Homo sapiens: one gene and its partners. The protein of the gene in region 4 purifies or fractionates together with the protein of the main gene of each other region. This does not show direct contact. Each region holds a gene or a part of one and is shown on either strand. Other genes may lie near its edges.

Region 1 (4,148 bases), on a different chromosome or scaffold from region 4:
AACTTTAGACACATGATATAAATATAAACGTAAAGACGAAAAGTTAATGTTCTACAGTTATAAAATAATTTTTAAAAAATATTTTTCCCTATGTGACAAATCTATAATTTAAAAATCCCTTTAAACAAAAACTCTCATCTGCCACTATTTTAAAAATAGCCCATAATTGTTCAATTTCTTAATAACTAACAAAAATTTGTAACAAAATGGACAATTCTGCAATCTTTAAAATGCTCACTGTGGCAATTTTCTCACATGTCTAATGTGTGCCCATAATGTCCAAAGATTAATATTTTGTACCACAAAAGATGGATAAGAAAAAGAATAGATTTAAGTATGCAACACATATATTTTAATATTAAACTTTTCCTTTTTGTTAATGAAAAAAGGTAAGCCAAAAGTGTTCTAAATGTTATATAAATACAAATGAATTTCTAATGGGTATTCTTCCAATATACCAAACTTGGTTGTTTTTAAAAAATTAATTCAAAAATAAGTACAACATGCATAGATTATTCCACATCACATGCTTTATTTGGACTTAAACACTTATAATTTCATTCTAAACACTTGGTTGACATACATTTTGATGTGTGTAGTTAGGCTATACAGAATATACAAACCAAAGCTGTATGAATAATACATAGGTTTTTCAAAAGTTATGTTTCATAAAGAATACAGAGAAAGGAAAAATAGCCACACATCCAATATCTCACAACTTCTAAAAATAAAACTACAGAGATGTAAAATATAAACAAATCAAACAACACACAAATTATCATCCTTGAAAGAAAAATTACAGGCCAGCATCAGCCATTCTTTGAAGAACTAAAATTATTAAAGAAAACATAAATTTATTACAAAGCTAACTATGAGTGTACTAATAGGTAAAATAATATGAAGCAGTATAATTCTACATTAACAAGTTTTTCCATAATATAGCATAATCTCTCTAATCAAAATTTCTAATTCTATCTAGTATTAATTTAACTACTGACTTTAATTCATAATTGGTAGCCTAATTTCTGGCATACAATGTGAAATGACATATAATTTCATTAAATCCATAGTACTATAAATAGTCAATTTTACACTATCTCATAAAGGTGTATGCAAAGGCCTTTTTAAAAAACAAGGCTATCTGAATATAATAAAACTAGTTTTCCAAGATTCAAATAACAAAACAGTTATATAAATGCATACATTACACTTCCTAGGTTAAAAACCATCAAAGATCACAAAAATATTACCAAAAAGGAAAGTCATATTTTTTCACCACTCATCTTTGTCCCTGCATCTTCATTAGAGCTGTCTAATTCAGCAAGACCACTTTCTGATTCAGTATGGCTTTCCTGCATTGTCACTGGGTTTCCAGCATCACTGTTCGAAGAAGTAGCTGTGGCAGCTGGTTCAGCAGGGCTTTCTTCTCCCTCTACTTTAGCTAGCCTGTAACTAGTCAGCATCTCCTCCAGAAGTTGTCGGTAGTTTCCCCTATGATTAATTCTCATTTGCCTGAGAGCTTCCACCAATTTTCCCTGTGATCCACTTTCCTCTGCTTCATCGGAGGCCTTTTTTTAAGATTCAAGACCCCAGTGTCAGTAGACAAACTAGGATATCACATGTATTTCATAACACATTACAGCAAAATACTAATTTCTCTACCGAAAAGTAATATAGTCTAAGCATGAGAACATTTTATTAAATATCAATTCTTACCTGTATCAATTAATAAAAACTTCCAATAATAATCTCAAGTCATTTTAAGCAAATTACCATTAACTAGTTTATGTCTTATTTCACAGTCATTTAAAGTTTAATCTGAAATTTACTCAGCTTTTATAATTCAACAGCAACACAAGCATTTCCTAAAACTGACTTACTTAAACAATATTTGGCTATATGATTTAGTACAAAAGAAAATCAATGTTTAAAGCAGTAGGAAAAGGACAGAAAAGCAGGCCATCAGAACAGTTTCTTCATCATTTCTGCTAAATAAGTAGGAAATACAAAACATAAAACTATATAGATTTAAACAGATTTTTGAAAGATTTTAGAGTTTTTACGGATAAAAATTGTATTTACTTTTTGCTCTTATTTTGATAAAAACATCTCTAGATAAAAATAAATTAAGTATTCTCAGTATGAATAATAAACTACTCAATCCTTTCATATTTTAGTGAATTTTGGAAAATCTACAGGTTTCTACAATAGTAACTACTTAATACTGTACAGAACAAGCTCTAATCATCCAAGCTGATCACAGTTAAGCCGACAGACTAAAATAAAGATATCTTTACAGTATGTGCCTCTTGATATGATGCATTATAAAGTACAGTCATGTCCTGTATTCGTGCCAAAAAATGTTTAGAATGAATCTAATAATGCTAATTCCCAGTTTACAGGAAAAAAGGGAATAGAGGATCAAGTTAGAGCACACATGAGAAAACAATCATATGAATTCAGAATGCAGGACGTATTGTAAAAAACTGGCTCAGATTCTTCAAAGTCAGTTTCAAGGGGAAAAAAACAGGTGAGGGGCTTGACTGATTAAAGACTTGTTTAATGTGCTTGATTGATAAACTTGATTAGACTGGGATTCAAAATAACAATTACAATAGTCACTCTAGTGACAACTAGGGAAATTTAAACTTGATATTCAATATTATACAATTTATTTTTTTATACACCTACAGTGTACCCACAAAAATTAAAAATAAATTTAAAAAAATGAATTTTCTTAGGTATAATAATGGTATTATGGTTATACAGAAAAATGTCTTCGTTCTTTTTTTTTTTTTGGGATGGAGTTTCACTCTTGTTGCCCAGGCTGGAGGGCAATGGCATGTTCTCGGCTCACCACAACCTCCACCTCGAGGATTTAAGCGATTCTCCTGCCTCAGCCTCCCGAGTAGCTGGGATTACAGGCATGTGACACCATGCCCGGCTAATTTTGTATTTTTAGTAGAGACAGGGTTTCTCCATGTTGGTCAGGCTGGTCTCGAACTCCCAACCTCAGGTGATCTGCCTGCATCGGCCTCCCAAAGTGCTGGGATTACAGGTGTGAGCTACCGTGCCTGGCTGAAAAATATCTTCATTCTTAAGAGCTGCATGCTTAAATGTTTACAGGTAAAATATGATGTCTGCAATTTTCTCTCAAAGGGTTCAGTCAAAGAAAGAAAAAAAACAGTAGATATAAAAAGAAAAATAAAGCAACTATGGCAAAATGTTAACAGTTGTTGAATCTAGAGAGACAATATACAGCTGTTCCAACATATCATATCCCCTTTTTAAATACATTTGGAAGTTTTCATCTTAAAATATTGGGAAAATAAAATACAAAATAGGTTATTGATACAGTTGATGTGACACAAACTCTTAACCATCTTTAGAGACTATTACATATACTTTTGCAACAAAGATAACACTAATAAAGCCATATAATAAATGGCAATGTTTTATTAGAAAAATGAGAGCAGATGAATGTTATTTTTTAAAAAGTTGCCCTCATTGGCCAGGAGCAGTGACTCGTGTATGCAATTTCACCACTTTGGGAGACGGGTAGGAGGATTCCTTGAGGTCAGGAGTTCTAGGCCAGCCTGGGAAACACAATGAGACCCTATCTCTACAAAAAATGTTTAAAAGGAACACGCCCATAGTCCCAACTACTTGGGGAACTGAGGCGAGAGGTTGAGCTAAGTCGAGGAGGTTGAGGCTTCAGTGACCCATGACCATACCAATGAACACCAGTCTGAACGACAGAGTGAGACCCTCTTAAAAAAAAAAAAAAAAAAAAGGGCTTGTTAGGCTGAGGCGGGTGGATCACGAGGTCAGGAATTCAAGACCAGCCTGGCCAAGATGGTGAAACCCTATCTCTACTAAAAATACAAAAAATTAGCAGCACGCAGTGGCAAGTGCCTGCAATCCCAGCTACTCCGGGAGGCTGAGGCAGGAGAATCGCTTGAACTCGGAGGGCGGAGGTTGCAGTGACCCGAGATCGCACCACTGCACTCCAGCCTGGGTGACAAAGTGAGACTCTATCTCAAAAAAAAAAAAAAAAAGAAAAGAAAAAGAAAAAAAAAGTGCTTGTTTTCCTGCCTCAGACGGGGTGGTGGTGGGGATGGGGCGGGGAAGTATCCTCATGGCAAAAA
Region 2 (6,279 bases), on a different chromosome or scaffold from region 4:
GGTTGGTAGTGCAGGCTTCCATCTCTTGCTTGAACTTTTCGTAGCATTCCTACGGTTTCTTTCTAATCTGTCTTCCCACTGCTGTCCAAGAGATCTTTCTAAGACACAAAATCTGACCTTGTCATTGCCTTCTTTATAAAATGTTCCTGGCCCACTGCTTTGGCAGTGATTCTTAACTGAGATTTCATATATCAGAATCATGGCCGGGCGCAGTGGCTCACACCTGTAATCCCAGCACTTTGGGAGGCTGAGGGAGGTGGATCACTTAAGGTCAGGAGTTCAAGACCAGCCTGGCCAACAGGTGAAACTTCATCTCTACTAAAAATACAGAAATTAGCTGGACATGGTGGTGCACGCCTGTAGTCCCAGCTACTCAGGAGGCTGAGGCAGGAGAATTGCTTGAACTCAGGAGGTGGAGCTTGCAGTGAGCTGAGATCACACCACTGCACTCCAGCCTGGGCAACACAGCGAGATTCCTTCTCCAAAAAAAAAAAAAAAAAAAAAGAATCACCTAGGAAGCTTTTTTCACTGACACATGCCCTCATCTTGCTTCTGGACGTTCTGATTCAGTAGGTCTGGAGTGGGGCCTGAAAGCATAGAGCAGTGGTTCCCAACTTTGGAAGAGAACCCAAAACAGATGACCAGAGACTCTGGTTCGGTTGGTCTGGAATGCAGCCTGGGCACTGGGGCTCTCTAAATCTGCCCAGTGATGCTAATGTGCTGCCAGGGTTGAGAATCACCACTGCGGAGGAAGGAAGAAGGTTCCAGATTTGAGTGGTTTTGGTACCCACCCCTGGAGCACAAATGGCCGAAAGTCCATCTTCAGAGATGTGAGGCCATCCTAGACCCTTCATGATCTAGTTCTGGATAGCACATAGGATTCATTTTTCATCCAACTTTGATTAATTGATAGTAGCCACCCAGAGACTATGCTGGGTCGGACAATGTGTGTAGCCTGAGAGAGGATTAGAACCCATTAGTGTGGGCGCCATAGCAGGAGATGGGACAGGTGTGGCATGTGTGTCTGACCTTGTCTGTACCTCTTGAATTGTATGTTCTGGAAAGGCTATGCTACTGCATCCCTTCTTCCCTTTAAATAATGGGTTCTCCTTTCTGGAATCCATCTACTTTTGGGGTTTTAAAACAACCATTAAAATGTGTTTGTGTGTGTGTATATATACAGTTCAGAACCATTGCCCTCTGCCCTGGTAGATTAATAACACCCTCCTCTGAGTTATGCCTGTATGTTTTAGTTCATGTCACATTGTTATTTAATCTGTTTATCTCTCTCTCCCCCCCTTTCCTCCTACTAAACTGTAAGCTCCAGCAAAGGCAGTAATTATGTCTCAGGGCCTCAATGGTATCTGACCCTTAGTTGATACTTCATAAAAATGTGTTGATCATGATTGAATTCTTTATCACCTCATTCCTAAATTTAGTGATTGTGAAAGATGCTAGGATAAGTCCTCAAGAATTTAGTTTTTTGAGTCGAATTTTTACATCTTTAAGTGGAACAATTATATACCTATACTCCAGGCCCATATTTCCATTACTTGCTGGCTATTTTTGTCTTGTCGCCTCAAATAGGTATCTAAAACCAGATTTCTATATTCTGCCCCCCGATAAAAACTATCTCCAGATCATCTTTATTTCCTCCCTATTTCTTACCACTCCCCTTCCCCCCAACATCACGCCAGTCTTCAAAACTGACAGCTTCAAAGAATTAGTTTTCGCTCCCTGCTTAAATGATGACGGGATATTCTGGCAGATAAAATAATGTTTTCATCTATTGACAATGTCTCACTTGAAATAGAATAGTCGGTTTTACTATGTTCCAGGAGGAAATGACGTATTTATGAAATGCGCCCTTTGCCTTCTCCTTCACAGATTGATGCTGCCTCATTCACGCTGACATTCTTTGGTCAAGGATACAGCCAAGGCACTGGTACAGATAAGAACAAACCAAATATCAAAATTTGTACTCAGGTGAAAGGACCAGGTATTTCACATATCACTTAAGAATGCTTGGGAATTTTATACTCTTAAGCTATAAAGTACAATGCCATTACAATATATTCTTTTTAAAGCTTAATTGTTTTAGAAATACATTTGTACAAATTAAGTAACTTAAAATTATTCTGTCAAAGGAAGATTGAAATTATTGATATAATCCAATTTTATTAGTGCATCCCTCCCTCTGGCTGTTTTTGGAGTATGATTCAGTAATTCAGAATGGCAAATTTTAATTAGTATTAATAGGAAAAGGGATTGGTTGATATTCACCTGTTTGAATCTCATATGCAAGTAGTGTAATTATAATGTCAGTCAAATCTGTGCTCTAGGATTTCTTTAGAGTCTCTGAACACCCTGACATTGTTTGTAAAATATGTATGCACACGTGCACTTTTCAAGGGAAGGGAATGGCTTCTGATAGGTTGTTAAAAGAATGTTGCCCAAAACGTTCAAGAACTTTTGCTGTACATTTTACAGAACTATGCAGAGACAGACAGGTCCACTTGTGAACTGTGGTATAATTACTGTCAGAGACAGACAGGTCCACTTGTGAACTGTGGTATAATTACTGTCAGAGACAGACAGGTCCACTTGTGAACTGTAGTATAATTACTGTCAGAGACAGACAGGTCCACTTGTGAACTGTGGTATAATTACTGTCAGAGACAGACAGGTCCACTTGTGAACTGTGGTATAATTACTGTCAGAGACAGACAGGTCCACTTGTGAACTGTGGTATAATTACTGTCAGAGACAGACAGGTCCACTTGTGAACTGTGGTATAATTACTGTCAGAGACAGACAGGTCCACTTGTGAACTGTGGTATAATTACTGTCAGAGACAGACAGGTCCACTTGTGAACTGTAGTATAATTACTGTCAGCCCTTTTAGGTCACAGGCTATAATTTTTTATTGAGACGGGGTCTCACTATGTTGCCTAGGCTGGGCTCAAGCAGTCCTCCTGCCTCAGCCTTCTAAAGGGTTGGGATTACAGGCATGAATTGCCATGCCTGGCCCACGGGGGATTTTAATCAAGCCAGATGATAGTATGTTTCCATCTTGCCCTTTTCTGAAATTCCCACCTGACTTTTTAAGGTAAGTTGACTGTATTTTCATTATTTGACAGGATTATAAATGCTAATGTTCCGTTTGTTTATAAACATTTTTTTAACTTATGTTTAGTCGTTATTCTTTAAGAAAAAATTGAGAGGATTTTTTTGTTGTTTTTAAGTGAAGTGTGTGAATACAGATAGGGATCGGCTCAGTGTACAATAGAGAAACAAAAAACCTAGGATCATTGGCTTCAATGATTGTCAAGAAGCAGTGCAGTGCAGTGGGTGGAGTGTGGACTCTGGAACCAGCTGCCTGGGTGTGATTTTGGCTCAGTCACTACCTGTTAGTTTGGACAAGTCACTTAACCTCTCTCTCTATGGGATAAAAGTAATATTGACCTTAAATAATTGTTATGAAAATTAAATGAGTTTAATAGACCTAAAGCACTTAGTACAGTTCCTAACACTTAATAAATACTTTCGATATGTTATTTTTGTTAAGTGACCAGAGTATCTATTGAAAAAAATCTGCACACCTAGAGTAAGATATAAAATCTACCATTTGATTTTTGATGTTGTTGAATGGGTACTTCATGATTCCTTTCTTTTTCCCTGATCAACTGTTTTCTGCAGAGGCTGGCTATGTGGCTACCCCCATAGCTATGGTTCAGGCAGCCATGACTCTTCTAAGTGATGCTTCTCATCTGCCTAAGGCGTAAGTTTGGTTTTCTTCCAATTAGAAGATCTTTTTTATCTATGTTATATTTTAGCTTATTTTGATTTGATTTTCAGGCTTTGGGTTTGCATGTAAGCATTTATAGTTCAGTTCCTTTGCTTCAAAAATATAGGTAAATTAAAACTGTGAGAAGGACAGCTTCTTACCAGCCCAGAGTTGGTCTCAGAGGAACAACTGTGGAGGTAAATGAGAGGAGACAGAAAAGTTGGAGAGCCATGAGTTAACTTCAGCCCTTTATAAAGATACCTCAAGTCCAGAGTCAGCCACTCAAAAAAGTCCCTGTTGTTAATAGTATTACTAGGAGCTTCCAATCAGTGCCTAACTATACCCAGCTGGCAGTAGTAACCCTGACTGACACCAGCATAAATGGAACCATGGGATCCTGGCTAGATGATTTTCAGACGTACTGTCTTACTGGAGCATTTAGCTGTCCCCCTAAAACTAGGCCAGCTTTTCAAATGAGCAGAGGCCTGCTGCTGAGAAGTAAACCAGGCATGACCTAAAACAGGATTAATAAAAGTAAAATTTGTATATAGTAAAATCTAATTAAATTTTTTCAAATACCTAGGTCCCCCTTGAAAATATTTAGCATTTATGAATGTTAGCTATTATATTTTTAAAAACTTCTTTTTCATCCAATTTAAGTTCTGTTTACACTTTCATAATAATTGATTATCTAAATTTATTCCATTCGGGTCTTTCTTTAATCCCCCTAAGTCTGAGGACTGTCCTTGTAAACAGCAGCGGTTCTTCGGGGTGATGGCGCACAGTGCACCCACCAAACACATGCATAGAATGGAAACAGTATCTCCAGGAACAGAGCCAGTCTAGATAGGGTTGGCTGTGGTGCAAGTTTCTCCTGACTAATAGCTACTTGCTCATTTGGCTGATTTTAGGAAGGAATCAAAGGTAGCCGTGATTACCATGAAGACTTGGGTTTTCAGGGGTTCTGTAGCAATTTGATAGTGAGGCCTGTGAAATAGGAGACTGGAGAGGAGCTGAGTGCACTGTTTTCTCTTGTTATTGTTTTATAGGGGCGGGGTCTTCACACCTGGAGCAGCTTTTTCCAAAACAAAGTTGATTGACAGACTCAACAAACACGGTATTGAGTTTAGTGTTATTAGCAGCTCTGAAGTCTAAACACTGGAAGAATTAACTGAAGTCATAACGTGCGTGAATTAACAGCTTCTCTATTTGATATTTGAAATTCTTCTGTAAGCCTGTCTGAGTGTATGTGGAAACGATTGTCAAATCTAAAATATCTATATATTAAAAAGTAGGAAATTGTCCTAGCTTACCCTAAATTTCAAATCTGAGTTGATTTTGTGATTTTATTGCTTATAACAGAGAACTCATATTTGACATATTTTTTTCATTGATGTGTTCCTGGTAGATTTTCACGAATGAGCTGGCAGGTCTAATGGGGGAGGCGGCGTCCCAGTCTGTGTTGCAGCAGCATTCTCATCGGGGGTGCGCACACCATCGTTACTGTCGGGCAGTAACTGCCGCTTGCCTTGCCGCAGTAGGAGGGAAATCTCACCTTCCTTCCACATACTGTCTTGAGCCTTTGCTAAATTAAACTGCACTTTTTGCTATTTTTGCCTAGTTTTTCGCCAATCTACACTGATTTTGGACTGTTACCTAAGTTGAAAAATAAAAGGTTGTCAATCGAATGGTGGTTTAATGTTTGGACCTGCCGATGTATTTGTATAGTGGTAGAAACATGCTGCTTAAGTGGCCTAACCTGTTTCTTGCCAATAAGTAGGCTTATCATTTTATCTTTACGTAATTCTATATCTGTGACTAGGTTTTTAAGGATACAGCTTATAAGTTGCTATCAATTTTCACTACCTAAGCAGAATTTTTCTCTAATTTACTTTTTGTATTTTAACTAGGTTTTACATGGAAGCCCTAAAATAAGGCAAAAGACTTTTTCTTTTGTAATAAGCATATAATAAACACGTATATACATAGCAATCATGTTGTTCATTACCTAAACAAGACAGCCACTCCTTTATGGAATTTCTACCAAAAAGTGAGGAACATAAAATATTTAGGAATATTATTTGTGTTGGGAGACCCTTCTGCTCTGCCTGTAAGAAGAAGAGGGGGCGGTATCTAACTCAAAGAGGCCTGTAAGGAGAAGTGGGGGAGGGTATCTAACTCAAAGAGGCCTGTAAGAAGAAGCGGGGGGTATCTAACTCGAAGAGGGTGTTCTTGGTGGTAGTATTCCCCACCCTAACTCTGCTTCCTCTGTCCTGGCCTGGTCATCACAAGATACAGATCCTCAGCTGTGCCCTAACTTGTGGGACCTTAGAAAAGGTTTTATCGGCTGTGAAATTAGAAAGCAGTACAGGAGCAATAGAGCCCACGACTAGCTGCACATCTGAATCACGAAACAGTAACAGGTTCCTCCGTGCCTGCAGCAACTTGCGTTCAGGAGGGCGGGAGGTCGAAGCCTCTGTGTTTTTGATATG
Region 3 (7,151 bases), on a different chromosome or scaffold from region 4:
AAGACTCACCTATCCCAAGGTCCCAGGAAGGCGAGCCTGGCATGTTGGGCACTGGCTATGTGACCTCAGACAAGTCCCTTGACCTCACTGAACCTCTGTTTACACATCTGTAAAATGGCCACATGACCACAAACAGGAAGCAAGAGATAATGACAACTATACCTGCCAGGTAGGCCAGGAGGATGCCGACGACGACCATTAGCTGCACACAGGAGCCGAGCAACCCCCGGACTGCTGGGTAGGCGATTTCGGAGATGTAGACCTGCCAGCAATCAGATGAGGATTTATGGCTGGGCGCAGTGGCTCATGCCTGCAATCCCAGCACTCTGGGAGGCCGAGGCGGGCAGATCACCAGAGGTTGGGAGTTTGAGACTGGCCTGACCAACAGGGAGAAACCCCATCTCTACTAAAAATACAAAATTAGCTGGGCCTAGTGGCACACATCTGTAATCCCAGCTACTCAGGAGGTTGAGGGAGGAGAATCACTTGAACCCTGGAGGTGGAGGTTGCGGTGAGCCAAGATCCCACCATTGCACTCCAGCCTGGGCAACAAGAGCGAAACTCCGAAATTTTTAAATAAAAATTAAAAAAAAAAAAAAAAAGATGAGGCTTTACTCAGGCTCCAAGAGTTCTTAAAATGGAAAGGTCTCAGCCATTCAGAGCTGAGGAAAGTCCTTGCAGGGGGTTACGGCAGGCCCTGAAGCCCCTTAGTGGAACCTGCCTAGGTGAGCAGAGCCATCCCCAGGTCCCCACCACTGAAAGATCTGTGGCAGGTGTTTAAAGGGGATTAAGGGTAACGGAGAGGGCTGCATATGATGACGAGAGGCGGTGGGCACAGAGCTTCTCAAGCCTTCGTTTAATGTGCACAGACACCCTGGATAAATCATAGATTCCGATGCAGTAGGTCTGGACAGGCGAAAGATTCCACCTTGTTAACCAGCTCCACGTGACGCCCACCCAGGATCCTAGCCCAGGGCCCACGCTTTGAGTGGTGGCCTTGGACTAGAAGCACGAACTCTCTGCCTCGGTCACTACCAGTGGCTGCCACTAGCTCCCTCCTGGGCCCACAGGCCACCAGGCCCTCACCCATGCATCTAAGGTTATTCCATAGCTTAGGCCCCTAACACAGGTGTGTTTCTGCCCAGTTAAAAAAACCAAAGACATAAAAGGCCCAGCTTCTTCCCCACCCTCTTCTGGTCCAGCTGCTGCTGCCGGTTAGCAAACGTTGGTGAAATGAGCACCCAGGGAGGGGCCTGAGTGGCTGCTTTCAACCTCACTTGGGGGAGATATTGTCCAAGCCCATGGCTGGGGGCAGTTCATGGGTCACCAAGCTGTCAGGATCCAGTCCTCTACAAGCCATGCCAGGGGCTGTCTATCCAAAGTCCCACTGAATCCTGACCACTACCTCAGGGGCTAATGCCATAATCCCTGTTTTCCAGAGAAGGAAACTGAGGCCCAGGGAGGCACTCTGCTCAGGTTAGTGGCAGAACCAGGATTTGACCCAGATGTTCGGGGCTCCCAAGTGGGCAGCCTGGGTCAGGAGGGGGAAAGGGGGAAGATGGGGAAGCCAGAGGGGCTGGCCTGTGAGAAGGGAAGGGGAACACAGAGGCCAGCAGCCTTTGCCCCAAGAGAAATCAGGACAGGAACTTCCTGCTAATTGCAGTCATTGACCCGAAGCCAGGGATGAAAACCAAAATGTAGGGAGTGGGCTCCTGTGGATCATCCGCAGGTTTGCAGAGCAAAAGAGGGGCACGGCTAAGTGGGACAACCCTGGGTTCCTGCAACTGCTTCCCCTCTGACTAGCTGTGGACCTCGCCTGGGCAAAGGACTTCACCTTTCCGAGACTGCATGTCATGACCTCAGTGTAAAATGGAGAGAACAGTAGGATCCTTCCCAGGGTCGACGGGAGGGACCGCGAGATAACGCAGGGACTTCAAGCCTGGCACCCAGAAGGTCCCGCCAGGGGGAGCCGCGCCCCCAGGCCTGGGGAGCGGTTTGTCCCACTCCCCCTCGGTCTCAGGCCGCGAGACAGGACACTCGAGAGACGGGACACTCACCGGGGCCACTAGGGAGGCAACACCGCAGGCCAGGCCGGTGAGGAGGCGGCCCCCCAGCAGCATCCACACGTCCTGGGCCGCGGTGATGACGGCAAAGCCGGCCACGAAGGGCACGGAGCACAGCAAGAGGCTCAGCTTGCGCCCGGCGCGGTCCACCAGCCAGCCGCCCAGCACTCCCCCCGCCGCGGCACCCAGGGTCACGACAGCCTGGAGGCGGGCGGCTGCTGAGGAGGGGGCGCCGAAGCCGCAGCCCATCCTCCCCCTCCACCCACTCCCCGCGGGCTCAGAGGTAAAAGAGCCGGGGCCCCGCGCCCGTCCCGAGGGGAGGGGTAGGGGGCTGAGGGGCCCGGTGCTCGTCCCGAGGGGAGGGGTGGGGGCTGAGGGGCTCGATGCCCGTCCCGAGGGAAGGGATGGGGGGCAGAGAGGCCCAATGCCTGTCTCGTGGGGAAAGGTGGTGGCGGCGGGGCCCGATGCCTGTCCCGAGGGGAAGGGTGGGGGGCGGAGGGTCCCGATGCCCGTCCCGAGAGGAGGGCGTGGGGTCCCAGGGCGGGAGGAGCGAGCCCGGGGCCTCACCCCGAACCAGGAGGCGGCGGCGTCGTCCAGGCGCGGGGCCGGGGGCGCGGCGCGCTGCAGGCTAGGGATGGCCGGGGAGCTGTAGCCGAGCGCGAAGCCGAAGCTGAGTGGGCCCAGGGCAGCGGCGAAGGCGGCGAGGAAGACGCGGCGGCCGCGGGGCGCGCTGGGGGGACAGGGCCGAGGGTGAGCGGAGCGGACGCGGAGGGGCGGGAGGGCGAGGCCGCATCCGGGCCCGGGTTCCCCGGAGCTCACCTGCCGCCAGGAGGCCCCAGAAGCGGCTGGGTTTCCTCTGGGTCCTCGGGCGTCATGTCGGCGGCCAACGCCGATCGGCCAGCTCTGGCGCCTGAACCGCCACGGGCCCTGCGAGTGCGGCCCGCACCGGCCTCTCGCAGCCAATGGGCGGCGGGGGGTGGGGGACGGTGCTGGGCGGGATCGGAACCGCAGAGCAGGAGCAGCCAATAGGAACGCAAGGCGGGGCTAGCGAATCAGCTAGGACCCGCCCTTCACATTAAAGCAGACCAATGGGAGCATAGAACCGATTAGCGAAGCGCGCTGGAACCGCCCCTAGGGCGGAGCGGTCCAAGGTACAGGTGGGGCGGAGTTTCCGTCTGGGAGAACAACCACCCAATTGGAGTGTAGTGCGAGCCCATAGACGGGGCCAGAGAGCTGCCTCAGAACTGAGCTGGCCAATGAGGTTGGAGGGAGGAGTTTTTTTTCTGGCACCTCCTCTCAATCTGGCTTCAACCAATGAGGGTAGAGGCGGGGCGAAGGCGAAGCACGTGGGCCTCAGCCCGAGACTTCCCGCCCCCAACTCCGAGAAGCTGCACCTGTCCTGCCCGGTCGGGTCTGCAGTTCCTGCTCCGCTTTAATCGCTGCCCTGGGGACTGTATTGGAGGCGTCTGACCTATGCCTGGGCCCAGCTCTGCAGGGGAGAGAGCCTCTAAGCAGACCGTCCTGGGCCGCCTCTCTCTCCTCTCGGAGGGCGAGACTGGTCAGACGCTCCCGCTGGGCTGCTGGCGGCGGAGGCGTGGCCCTGTGCACCGAAACCCACTTTCATGCTTCCCAGATTGCTGAAGGCTCGGGTCTCCAGGTGCTGAGGACCAGTGGTAGGTGGGGTCCCCCACGCCGTATGTGTGACAGATCTGGGCTCCACTCCCCCTCTTAAGTGTCACTCACTTCACAGGGAGTCCTGACTCTTGAATCTTCATCTACCTGCCTCCATATTTTGAGTTCCCTGTGGATTTTAATGCCACCTTCTCCCGTGTGCACCCAAGTCGAATGATGAGGCACTGTTGGATCTCACCAGTTGTACCCGATTCATACCCAACACTCTGGGTGCAGGCAGCTGTGGTGGAATGCTGGTGTAATTCTGGAAAGAGCCAGGGCATGGGAGTAAGAGGCTTGGCTTGTAATCCCTCTCTGGGCCTTGTGTTTCCTCATCTCTAAGTGGGGATGACCATTATCTTCCAGGAGAGTTGTGAAGCAAGGTAATGTATATAAGACATGTGAAGCACTCAAAGGCTAACCGGTATGATGAAGACAGTCATCTGATATGTTGCAGTCACTTGATGGTTCTAGCAACCAACATTTTTCAGTCCTGACCACAAGCCTATCCTTAAAGACTTAGGCAACTGCCCTTCTGTACTCCCACAGCATCTAATGCTTGATAACTCGAGCACTAGATGTGTATTCTTATCACAGCATTTATCACTGCTTTGTGATCCCTTGTTTACTTCCGTCCTTCCCCCAATGGACATGACCTCCTCTGGAGAGGAGGCACTTGGTGTGTGCAGAGTGGATCAATGCCTCCAACTCCATAGGCAGACACTGCAGTTAGATGATTTTCTGTGTGACTCAGCCAGTCGGGTACACAGAAAGGATTATGTAGGCAGGGTGCTCCTACCCTGTGGCCGATGGCTTCCCTTCCCGTGAGTGTGCAGAACTCACTTCTTGGCCTTTGTAGACAAATAATGTTGCCAGAACAGCCTCCTGCCCCCTTTTCATAGGCAAAGCACCATCAGCCTGATCAGTAGGGTCCACCTCTTGCCCTTGCTACATCACTCCTCAGACCTGTGACTCTTGTCAAATTGTGGGTGGCTCTAATGCTGCTGATTTGGAAGAATGCTCTAAAATAGTCCTTGGGTTTTTTTTATGCTACACTGTGAAGCAAGAAACTTCCAGAAAAAAAGGAAAAACACAGATACAAGCTCATAAAGCTTACAAATTAGTTTAACATGAAAAACACCAGCCAGATCCAGCTGACACAAGGCACTGAGCCTGGCTCTGCATGGCAGACGTGGGGAAAGCAAGGGCTCTGGAGTCAAAGAACTTGCAGGTTCAAACCATTGCCCCTTCCTAAGCCTATTTCCTTATTTGAAAAGCAAGAATAATAAAACATAATTCATTAAACTGTTGGTGGGGTTGAGACACAGTGTTTTTTTCCCCCTATATAGGAAAAGGGCATAAAACACACAAAGGAAGAATGGGCATGCTAACTGCTGCAAAGAATATGAGCAGACACATTTGGTTATAAACAGCCCCATCTGGGTATACCTAAAAAGCACTGTCTTTACTACTCTTGACTCTTGCCTTCTGCCAAAGATGAACCAAGCAACCTTCAGCTTGGGCTATCATGCTGATCTGTTTGTACAAAAGACAGAGAGGGGAACTTTCCCCACAGTGTGCAAGGCCCACTAGGAGGTACGACCCAAACTTCTATAAAATCTGTCAGACCAAGGTCCTGTCAAACTCAGTTCTCCACACTCACAAAGAAGGCCTGCTGGCCGGGCATAGTGGCTCACACCTATAATCCCAGCATTTTGGGAGGCCAAGGTGGGCGGATCACGAGGTCAGGAGTTCGAGACCAGCCTGGCCAACATGGTGAAACCCCATCTCTACTAAAATACAAAAATTAGCTGGGTGTGGTGATGCGTGCCTGTAATCCCAGCTACTTAGGAGGCTGAGGCAGCAGAATGGCTTGAACCTGGGAGGTGGAGGTTGCAGAGAGCCGAGATCGTGCCACTGCACTCCAGCCTGGGCAATAGAGTAAGACTCTGTCTAAAAAAAAAAAAAAAAAAAAGCCTGCAGAAGAACTCTTCTGAGCTGCTTTAACGGGGTAACAGGAAGTTTCCTTTGATGAATAATGTAATAATATAAGTAGGAAGAGACAGAATAAAATTGAATTGGCTAGACTAAAGCCAAAGGTAAAATACCTTCTTCACACAGATTAAAATATTTGCAAACAATGCTAGTGAAACTGGATCTCCCCTTGGCTAGTGGCTGAGATTTCACTATTTCTTTTGCACTTGGCCCAGTCCACATTTCTTTCTGTTCACACTGGAGAGGGAGCCAGGAAAGGCAGATAAACCAAATTATTATCTTCATATCATTTATGTGAAAGAGTGAGGGGGACTCAAAAAGAAGGAGGAGTTTGAAAATGCTTTCTTTTTTTTTTCTTTTCTTTTCTTTTTTTTTTTTTTTTTTTTGAGACAGGGTCTCCCTCTGTTGCCCAGACTGGAGAACAGTGGTGCAATCTTAGCTCACTGCAGCCTTAAACTCCTGGGCACAAGGGATCCTTCCACCTTGGCCTTCCAAAGCACTGGGATTACAATGAGAATACTTTTAACCACAAGGAGTAGCTGTTCTCTGGTTACATTATTGCAGAGTAACAATAAAACCACACAAAATAATCTGAAGACTTTTGACAAGCTCCTATGCCTTAATATTTTTCATGAGATGCAGGGAAGAAGGAGGAGCTTCTAAGATCTAACCATTCAACTTTTCTCAAAAGTCTACAGGCAGGAATGCAGCTGGTTCCAATCACGGTGAACTGAAACAGCAACCGGGGCCAAAGGTGCAGAAAAAAAACTTACTTATAATAAAGTTAAAAAGCAACGACTTTTCTTTATAAAAGAAACACATTATGTGACATAAATCAAAACTGTAATGAAAAAATAATTTTCCATCTAAGTATATAAAATATGAGAAGGTTGCAGTAAATAAGAATGAGTATTTTTGATTTATTCAAAGTTTCAATCTAAAACCTCAATGAAATCTACCACCTTTATTACAAGGGGACTGATGGTTCCTGAACAGAAAGAAACAAAGGTCAGGAAAGATGGCACCGGACATTGGAGAGGGAACTGGCCGAGTGTGCAGAAGGTTTGGTCCAATAGATCACTGACAGGCTAAAAGCCACATTTTGTTGAGAAATTACATCAGAACTGTTTAAAGAGTATAAACCTCCATAAGAAAACTAAAGATGGCAAATGAGATTCAACTCTGTTACTTCAAGTCTATAATGTCTTCATCGGAGAAAGCCGTGAGCTGGAAGGGGCTGCTGCCGGAGACCGGGCTGCCCTCTCTGTCTGCCACAGGGTCCTGGTCAGAGCTGGCTGAGTGCCCCTCAGGGTTGGCTTCGGAAGTAGAAGCACTTTCCAAGGAGCCTGATGGGATCCTAGAAGAGAAAAGTCACTGTAAGAGGATCTTTGGGAGTACCACAGAACTGGGCCTATTTTTTTC
Region 4 (7,050 bases):
TTGAAATATGATAAAGAATTTGAAACAGAATATGGGATAAGTAGTCAATATCAGAAATGTGAGACAATAAAAACAAGATATATTCCAAAGCCTAATCCTAAATTTAAATCTACACTTCATTCAACTCTGAACCTGACCTTGAAACATGGAAGAAGTTACTTTACCTAAGCACACTGCACCAGTGTAAAACCAATGCCAATTTTAGCTGCTTTATACTGCTTAATGTGTATATGTACACATGTATTCTTAAAATGGTGATTCTTAAATTGAAGTTCTGAATTCTTTTGAGAATCTAACAGAGGTCATGAAAACTTGCTTCAGAAACACACATATGTAAAGTACTTTTAAGTGTTGATCATGTACTATAAATCACAGCATTGTGGATGCAATGGGATTAGACATGAAGAAAAATTTTATATTTTTAATAAAGACTGGTTACTAACCTTAAGGAATATACTTAGACTCTGAAAGTAAAAGGAAAGTGCAATGACCATATTTGTTCATTCATCTGCCTATTTTCAAATCTAATGATGATTTGGTTGATGCAAATATGTCCCTAATCTAGGCTATAAATGATAAAAACAAAAATGTTTAAGTTCTAACTTTTGTTAGCAGTATACATCTAAGAATTTTCAAGTATTACAAAATACTTGGAAGGAAAGACTTTAATATACCACTTTCAAAATCCTATGTACCCAAACCAGCAATGAAGTGGTGGGATATATAACGTTACCTTGGGCAAAATTTAAGAAAATAAAGACACAATAGCTCTAATTTTTTTTTTTTTTTTTTTTTTGAGACGGAGTCTCGCTCTATTGCCCAGGCTTGCATGCAGTGGTGCTATCTCAGCTCACTGCAATCACTGCCTCCTGGGTTCAAGCGATTCTCCTGCCTCAGCCTCCCAAGTAGCTGGGATGACAGGTGCCCGCCACCATGCCTGGCTAATTATTGTATTTTTAGTAGAGACAGGGTTTTGCCATGTTGGCCAGGCTGGTCTCGAACTCCTGATCTCAGGTGATCCACCTGCCTCGGCCTCCCAAAGTACTGGGATTACAGGCATGATCTAAATTCTTTATACCCTTCAAGGGCAGGAAACCAGTATCTCTGAAAAGCTTGTTTGTTTTAATACAATTGAACATTTCATCTTTCCCCCCACAGTAATCAAAGCAAACATTTTATCATTATTATTCTTGGTATATCAAAGTAAATTCCAGGAATGTAAGAAAGTCTGACTTGGAAATATTACATAGAAAAAGGCTGAATTAACACATTACATTTTTTAGTTTTTCCTTGTAAGTATACATTGACATCTACTTATCTGATAGCAGCACTGCTGGTTTTGAGTGAGTTTTGTTTTGTTTTGTTTCCTTCCAGAGGGAATGCAGTATGGCAGCATTTTCTTTGGAACAAATTAAGAAGATAGTAACAAATAACAGAAGAAATACTTCTACACATATATTTTCCATGGGCAATAAACAGATAAGTATATAATTATGAAAAAATATGCCTCAACTATGCTTTTTAAAATTTCTCAAGGTATACTGGTTTGTTTTTCTTATTCAAATATAATGCACTATCACTACTATCTGTCCCGGGAAAAACAAACCCTGAGGTTTGAGTTACCTCCTTCAGCCAACAGAGTGATATCAAGAGTAAACTTGGATTGAGGTCAACCTGTTTGAGCCAATAGAGAGTTCTGTAGTATATCTGGTTATTTTACTAACGTATACATATTCTAGGTTATAATCAAGATACTCATTAAATATTTTCTATCAGAGTTTTATATCCCAAACAGGTTCTTTGATGATTTATCATGCTACCATAGGAAATTTGAAGAAATAACAAATTGTGTAACAGAAATAGACATGCAATATAAAGGACATAAAAGATACAGCTTGACCCTGGATTTTTCCCTTAGAATAATTCCTTCCATAAATAAGACTCTATTTTTACATACAGATTCATCCTATAACTGGTCTTGGATCATAAAGTTAATGACATAGTTGAAAAAATCCAGACCACACATTTTTGTGGTCTTTTGTCACCCCAGACCACACACAAAAAAAACACTCTCCAAGTGGATGCTCAGGTCAGATTATGATGCTCTTAAATAAATGTACTGAAGCTTAGAATGTAAAGCACACAACTATTTGCAGCAGCAATAGTCTTTCAAAATAACTAAAACAAACTTTTAAATATAAGGCATATAAAACAGACTATTAAGGATAGTTTTCCAAACTATATATAGAAACACAGGAAAATATGTGTGGCCTCATAATAAAGTTAAATAAATATTATTTCTGAGTTCTTATAAACACTATGAGGTTATAGTTTTATTTGGTTCCCATAAATTAAAAACTCTGATTGCTTTTACATAAATTCTTAGCTACTCTCAGACTTTTTTTTTTTTGAGACGGAGTCTCCCTCTGTCACCCAGGCTGGAGTGCAGCAGGGCGATCTCGGCTCACTGCAACCTCTGCCTGCCGGGTTCAAGCAATTCTCCTGCCTCAGCCCTGAGTAGCTGGGACTACAGGCACGCACCACCATGCCAGGCTGATTTTTTGTATTTTTAGTAGAGACAGGGTTTCACCATGCTGGCCAGGCTGGTCTCGAACTCCTGGCCTCAGATGATCCGCCCACCTTGGCCTCCCAAAATGTTGGGATTACAGGCGTGAGCCACTGCGCCCGGCCCTTTCAGATTTTTATTAATGTCTTTTTATAAGACACAGAGATTATCTCTAACTTCATTTCAGAAATGTGCTTTTTCATTGGTTTTAATAAGTACATTTAATTTTCTAGCAATGAACATGACTTAAAATTTAAGGTTCAAGGTAGTTCTAGAAAAAGGTAGACACTGAACTATCTGCTTTTCTACATCCCCATATTTACAAAGCCTAGCATCCACTGTGCTTTCCTCCATACACTCAATCACATTGTCAATAAATAGTAACTGTGGTCCAGGTTACCTATGATAAAGACTCCAAAATTCCTCAAAATTTTACAACACTACAAAGTCATTAATATCTGATATTGATAGGTTATAAGTATTAGTGTTATGTAACTTTTTGCTATTGGAAAAGAAATACAAATCTTTATTTTTGCTATCTAAATTAAAACTAAGCTCCATGATCAAGATAATACCTAAAATGTACATTCCTAAATAAAGGTAAAGCTGTTTAAGGGCTGAACTAGTCCAATATACAATTAAGGGTTATTTATTCCTATTCTTTTGTTTTTGTTTTTTTGAATCCCTATGTTAAACCCGTGGTTTCTCATGAATTAGATCATAATTTAACATTGTAAAATTTCAGAAACTATTGTGCTAATATTTAGATTTCAGGAAGGAATCAGACTAAATCAATTACCTCCATTCATTGTTAGAACAGAAGATATAATAGCTTACTAACTGATATGAGTTATGAATGTCACTATGACACAAAATTTGCTGTGATTTGCTAATCTGGCTACAAGTGCAGTATTTTTCATGAATGTCAACACACAGCATTTCCAACTTGTAACATGAAACTCCAGCTCATAAAGAGTGTATTGTGTGACTTGAAAAAGTCTGATTGTAACTAAGTAACAACCGTTCCCCTGAAAAAACGAACAAAATCCATTAGGAAATCAGGCACAGACGGTATTGATCGGTTTTTCTTCCTTTCCTCCTGTGGTTTTGTTTCTCAAGACATATAGGTGGTTCCAACAGAAGCCAACACTTGTTACAAAATAACACAGCTATTTTTTTCCTTTTCTTTTTCTTTATCTTTTTCTCGTGGTTCCTTCCGTTTACGTTCACTATTCCCAGATTGTCTTCCACTTGATGGAGAGGCTTGTGCTGGCTGGCCCTGCTTTAAGAAAAATATACAGCAAGAAATTACTCTAACTATTCTGAGGGACTTACTCATGGTTATCTAGAAAGGAAAACTGTAACAGTGGAAGGAATCACTGATGGAAAAAGAAGCTAGCTATTGGCATACAGATTTGTTATATTACATGGTATCTGAGCCATTACCGCTACCATTCTGGATATAATTAATGTATTCATTATTCTGAATAAATAAAATTTCTTTTCCTTTTTTTTTTTTTGAGACAGAGTCTTGCACCGTCGCCCAGGCTGGAGTGCAATGGTGCAATCTTGTCTCACTGCAACCTCCACTTCCTGGGTTCAAGAGATTCTGCTGCCTCAGCCTCCCAAGTAGCTAGGATTACAGGCACCTGCCACCACGCCTGGCTAACTTTTTGTATTTTTAGTAGAGACGGGGTTTCACTATGTTGGCCAGGCTGGTCTCACACTCCTGACTTTGTGATCCGCCCACCTTGGCCTCCCAAAGTCGGTATTTCAAACAGTAAATAACGTAAGATTATATTGCCTAAAGTCAAATTGAAGACACATTTGTTAAAAGTTTAGAAAATGTTAAGGAAAGTGACACCTTTTGATAAACTATAATAGTTCTTCAAAACCTCATTAAATTCCATAATAAACAGACTTTTTTTTTTTTTTTTTTTTTTTATTGAGATGGAGTCTCACTCTGTTAGGCTGGAGTGCAGTGGCACAATCTCGGTTCACTGCAACCTCTGCCTCCCAGGTTCAAGCGATTCTCCTGCCTCAAGTCTCCCGAGTAGCTGGGACTACAGGTGCACGCCACCACACCCAGCTAATTTTTTATATTTTTAGTAGTGACAGGGTTTCATCATATTGGCCAGGCTGGTCTCGAACTCCTGGCCTCGAGATCCACCTGTCTTGGCCTCCCAAAGTGCTGGGATTATACGTGTGAGCCACCGCACCAGCCATAATAAACAGATTTTAAAAGGAGAAAAGAACCCCTGAGAATTGGGAGTTTGGAATAAGTGTATTTAGTGAAATAAGACACCTTTTTTGAGTGAAAACCTACACATAACATGGTAGGATTTAACTATTAAGCTTGGAGTAGTCAATATTTGAGCTAGAAATAGAAATTTTATACTTATTTTAATGGGGACTTCTATATTTAGTTTTATGAGACTTAAAAGGGCATCTTGCTTTCTTGTATGCCCAAATCAGAATTTCTTATGTATCTGAATCAAAATGAACAGTTTAGGCCAGGCGTGGTGCCTCACACCTGTAATCCCAGCACTTTGGGAGGCCGAGGTGGGTGAATCACTTGAGGTCAGGAGTTTGACACCAGCCTGGCCAATATGGTAAAACCTCATCTCTACTAAAAATACAAAAATTAGTTGGGCATGGTGGCACACACCTGTAATCCCAGCTACTTGGGAGGCTGAGGCAGGAGAATTGCTTGAACCCAGGAAGCAGAGGTTGGCAATGAGCGAGACTGCGCCACTGCACTCCAGCCTGGGCAACAGAGTGAGACTCTGTCTTAAAAAAAAAAAAAAAAAAAAAAAAAAAAAAAAAAAAAAAAAAAAAAAACAGGAACAGCAGTCTGGCATGGTATAAACATAAAAAAGGGGAATATTTTTAACTTAATGAAATGAGATTTAACATGTAGAATCCCACCATTAAATTTTCAGTGCTTTAAACCGTTTAACTACAGAAAGTGAAAAGTAGGGAGATGTCAACCTTTGTTGAATGCCTAGTACATGTTAAAAATTGGGGTAAGTGCTAATATTATTTGTTCTTCACAACAAACTTAAGAGTTCTTCTATTTTACAGATAGGGAAAATGAGGCTAAGAGAGGTAGAGGACGTCATCCAAGAGGTTGCAACTAGAAGGAGAGACAGGAGCAGGAAATGCAAATCCACATTTATCTGGCTCCAAAGTCTATTTTTTCTAGTAGTACCTCATACTGCCCTCTAGTTGATTGAAAGGACTTCGTCCAAATTGGCTTATTTTCTTTGCAGCTATTACGAATTTTAAAAATAAATTTGAAAATCAGAACCTCAGGAGAAAACATTTTACTAAACGAGATACAAGCTTAGGACAACGTCATAAAACCCATAGGTGCTAAAATCCTAACAAAATTGAAGAGTTAACACCTAATTTAAAATTTTTTATCTCAAGCGAAATTTACTGCTAAAGTGATCATCTTTTTTTTTTTTTTTTTTGAGAAGGAGTCTTGCTCTATCATCCTGACTGGAGTGTAGTGGCACAATCTCAGCTCGCTGCAACCTCTGCCTCCCAGGTTCAAGCAATTCTCCTGCCTCAGCCTCCCAGTAGCTGGGATTACAAGTGTTCACCACCACCACGCCCGGCTAATTTTGTATTTTTAATAGAGATAGGGTTTTGCCATGTTGGCCAGGCTGGTCTCGAACTCCTGGGCTCAAGCAATCTGCCTGCCTCAGCCTCCCAAAGGGCTGGGAATACAGGTGTGAGCCACTACACCCAGCCATGATCATCACATTTAAGACTCAAAACACTAGTTTTTACCTGAGCCTGTGTAGAAGCAGCAGCAGCAGCAGCTGCTGCTTGTTCCTGTTCCTGATAGTATTGAGAAGCCCGTCTGTCCTCTTCCTCTTGGAGTTTCTTTGCTAGTTCCAAATCACTGATTCCTTCCGGGATTTGTTCCCAATTGATCTCTTGGCTCTGCTGTTCTTGTTGTAGAGATAATGCCATAAGATAATCCTAATAAATTAAATTATAACCATCATTAGCTATGAGATTTTACCCAAGAATGAATGACTGCAAATACAAACGTTATATCTATAAAGCTGTAAGAATGGCTATTAAAAAATACACCAGGCCTGGGCAATATAGCAAGACCCTGTCTCTACAAAAAAAGTTTAAAAACCAGCCAGGTGTGGTGGTGTGCACCTATAGTCCTAGCTACTTGGGAGGCTGAGGCAGGAGGATTGCTTCAGCCCAGGAGTTTGAGGTTACAGTGAGTTATGATCTCCTCACTGCACCCCAGCATGGGTGACAGAGAGAGACCCTGTCTATAAATATGAATAAAATAAAAACAAAAAAGAAAAAGAAAACAATATAAAATAACAAAATAATTAAAATAAAATAAAAAACATTTTATTTTAAACATTAAAATGACAGTTATCTTCCTAAGTATTTCCCTTGGGGAGCTATGAACTTATTTCAGTGATTCTGTCATTGTTCTAAATATT

The links.
Region 1: the proteins of MINDY2 (region 4) and PPM1B purify together in Homo sapiens (affinity purification with mass spectrometry; 3 studies listed by BioGRID and IntAct, with this or other methods). This does not show direct contact.
Region 2: the proteins of MINDY2 (region 4) and SCCPDH purify together in Homo sapiens (affinity purification with mass spectrometry; 3 studies listed by BioGRID and IntAct, with this or other methods). This does not show direct contact.
Region 3: the proteins of MINDY2 (region 4) and SLC2A8 purify together in Homo sapiens (affinity purification with mass spectrometry; 3 studies listed by BioGRID and IntAct, with this or other methods). This does not show direct contact.

Annotation. Positions count from the first base shown.
Region 1 is NC_000002.12:44,227,833-44,231,980, reverse strand, and holds the end of PPM1B (protein phosphatase 1B), read right to left. Parts: intron 1,989-4,148; coding exon of another isoform or gene 1,980-1,988; exon of another isoform or gene 1,569-1,979; coding exon 1,263-1,568; 3' UTR 509-1,262; downstream 1-508.
Region 2 is NC_000001.11:246,762,359-246,768,637, forward strand, and holds the end of SCCPDH (saccharopine dehydrogenase-like oxidoreductase), read left to right. Parts: intron 1-1,887; coding exon 1,888-1,999; intron 2,000-3,699; coding exon 3,700-3,781; intron 3,782-4,836; coding exon 4,837-4,942; 3' UTR 4,943-5,779; downstream 5,780-6,279.
Region 3 is NC_000009.12:127,393,018-127,400,168, reverse strand, and holds the start of SLC2A8 (solute carrier family 2, facilitated glucose transporter member 8), read right to left. Parts: upstream 3,001-7,151; 5' UTR 2,939-3,000; coding exon 2,883-2,938; intron 2,794-2,882; coding exon 2,631-2,793; coding exon of another isoform or gene 2,265-2,630; coding exon 2,058-2,264; intron 1,998-2,057; exon of another isoform or gene 1,856-1,997; coding exon of another isoform or gene 1,835-1,855; intron 263-1,834; coding exon 163-262; intron 1-162. Other genes in the region: GARNL3 (GTPase-activating Rap/Ran-GAP domain-like protein 3), read right to left, coding at 6,915-7,086.
Region 4 is NC_000015.10:58,851,280-58,858,329, reverse strand, and holds part of MINDY2 (ubiquitin carboxyl-terminal hydrolase MINDY-2), read right to left. Parts: intron 6,560-7,050; coding exon 6,365-6,559; intron 3,849-6,364; coding exon 3,720-3,848; 3' UTR 1-3,719. UniProt on the Homo sapiens protein: Hydrolase that can remove 'Lys-48'-linked conjugated ubiquitin from proteins. Binds to polyubiquitin chains of different linkage types, including 'Lys-6', 'Lys-11', 'Lys-29', 'Lys-33', 'Lys-48' and 'Lys-63'.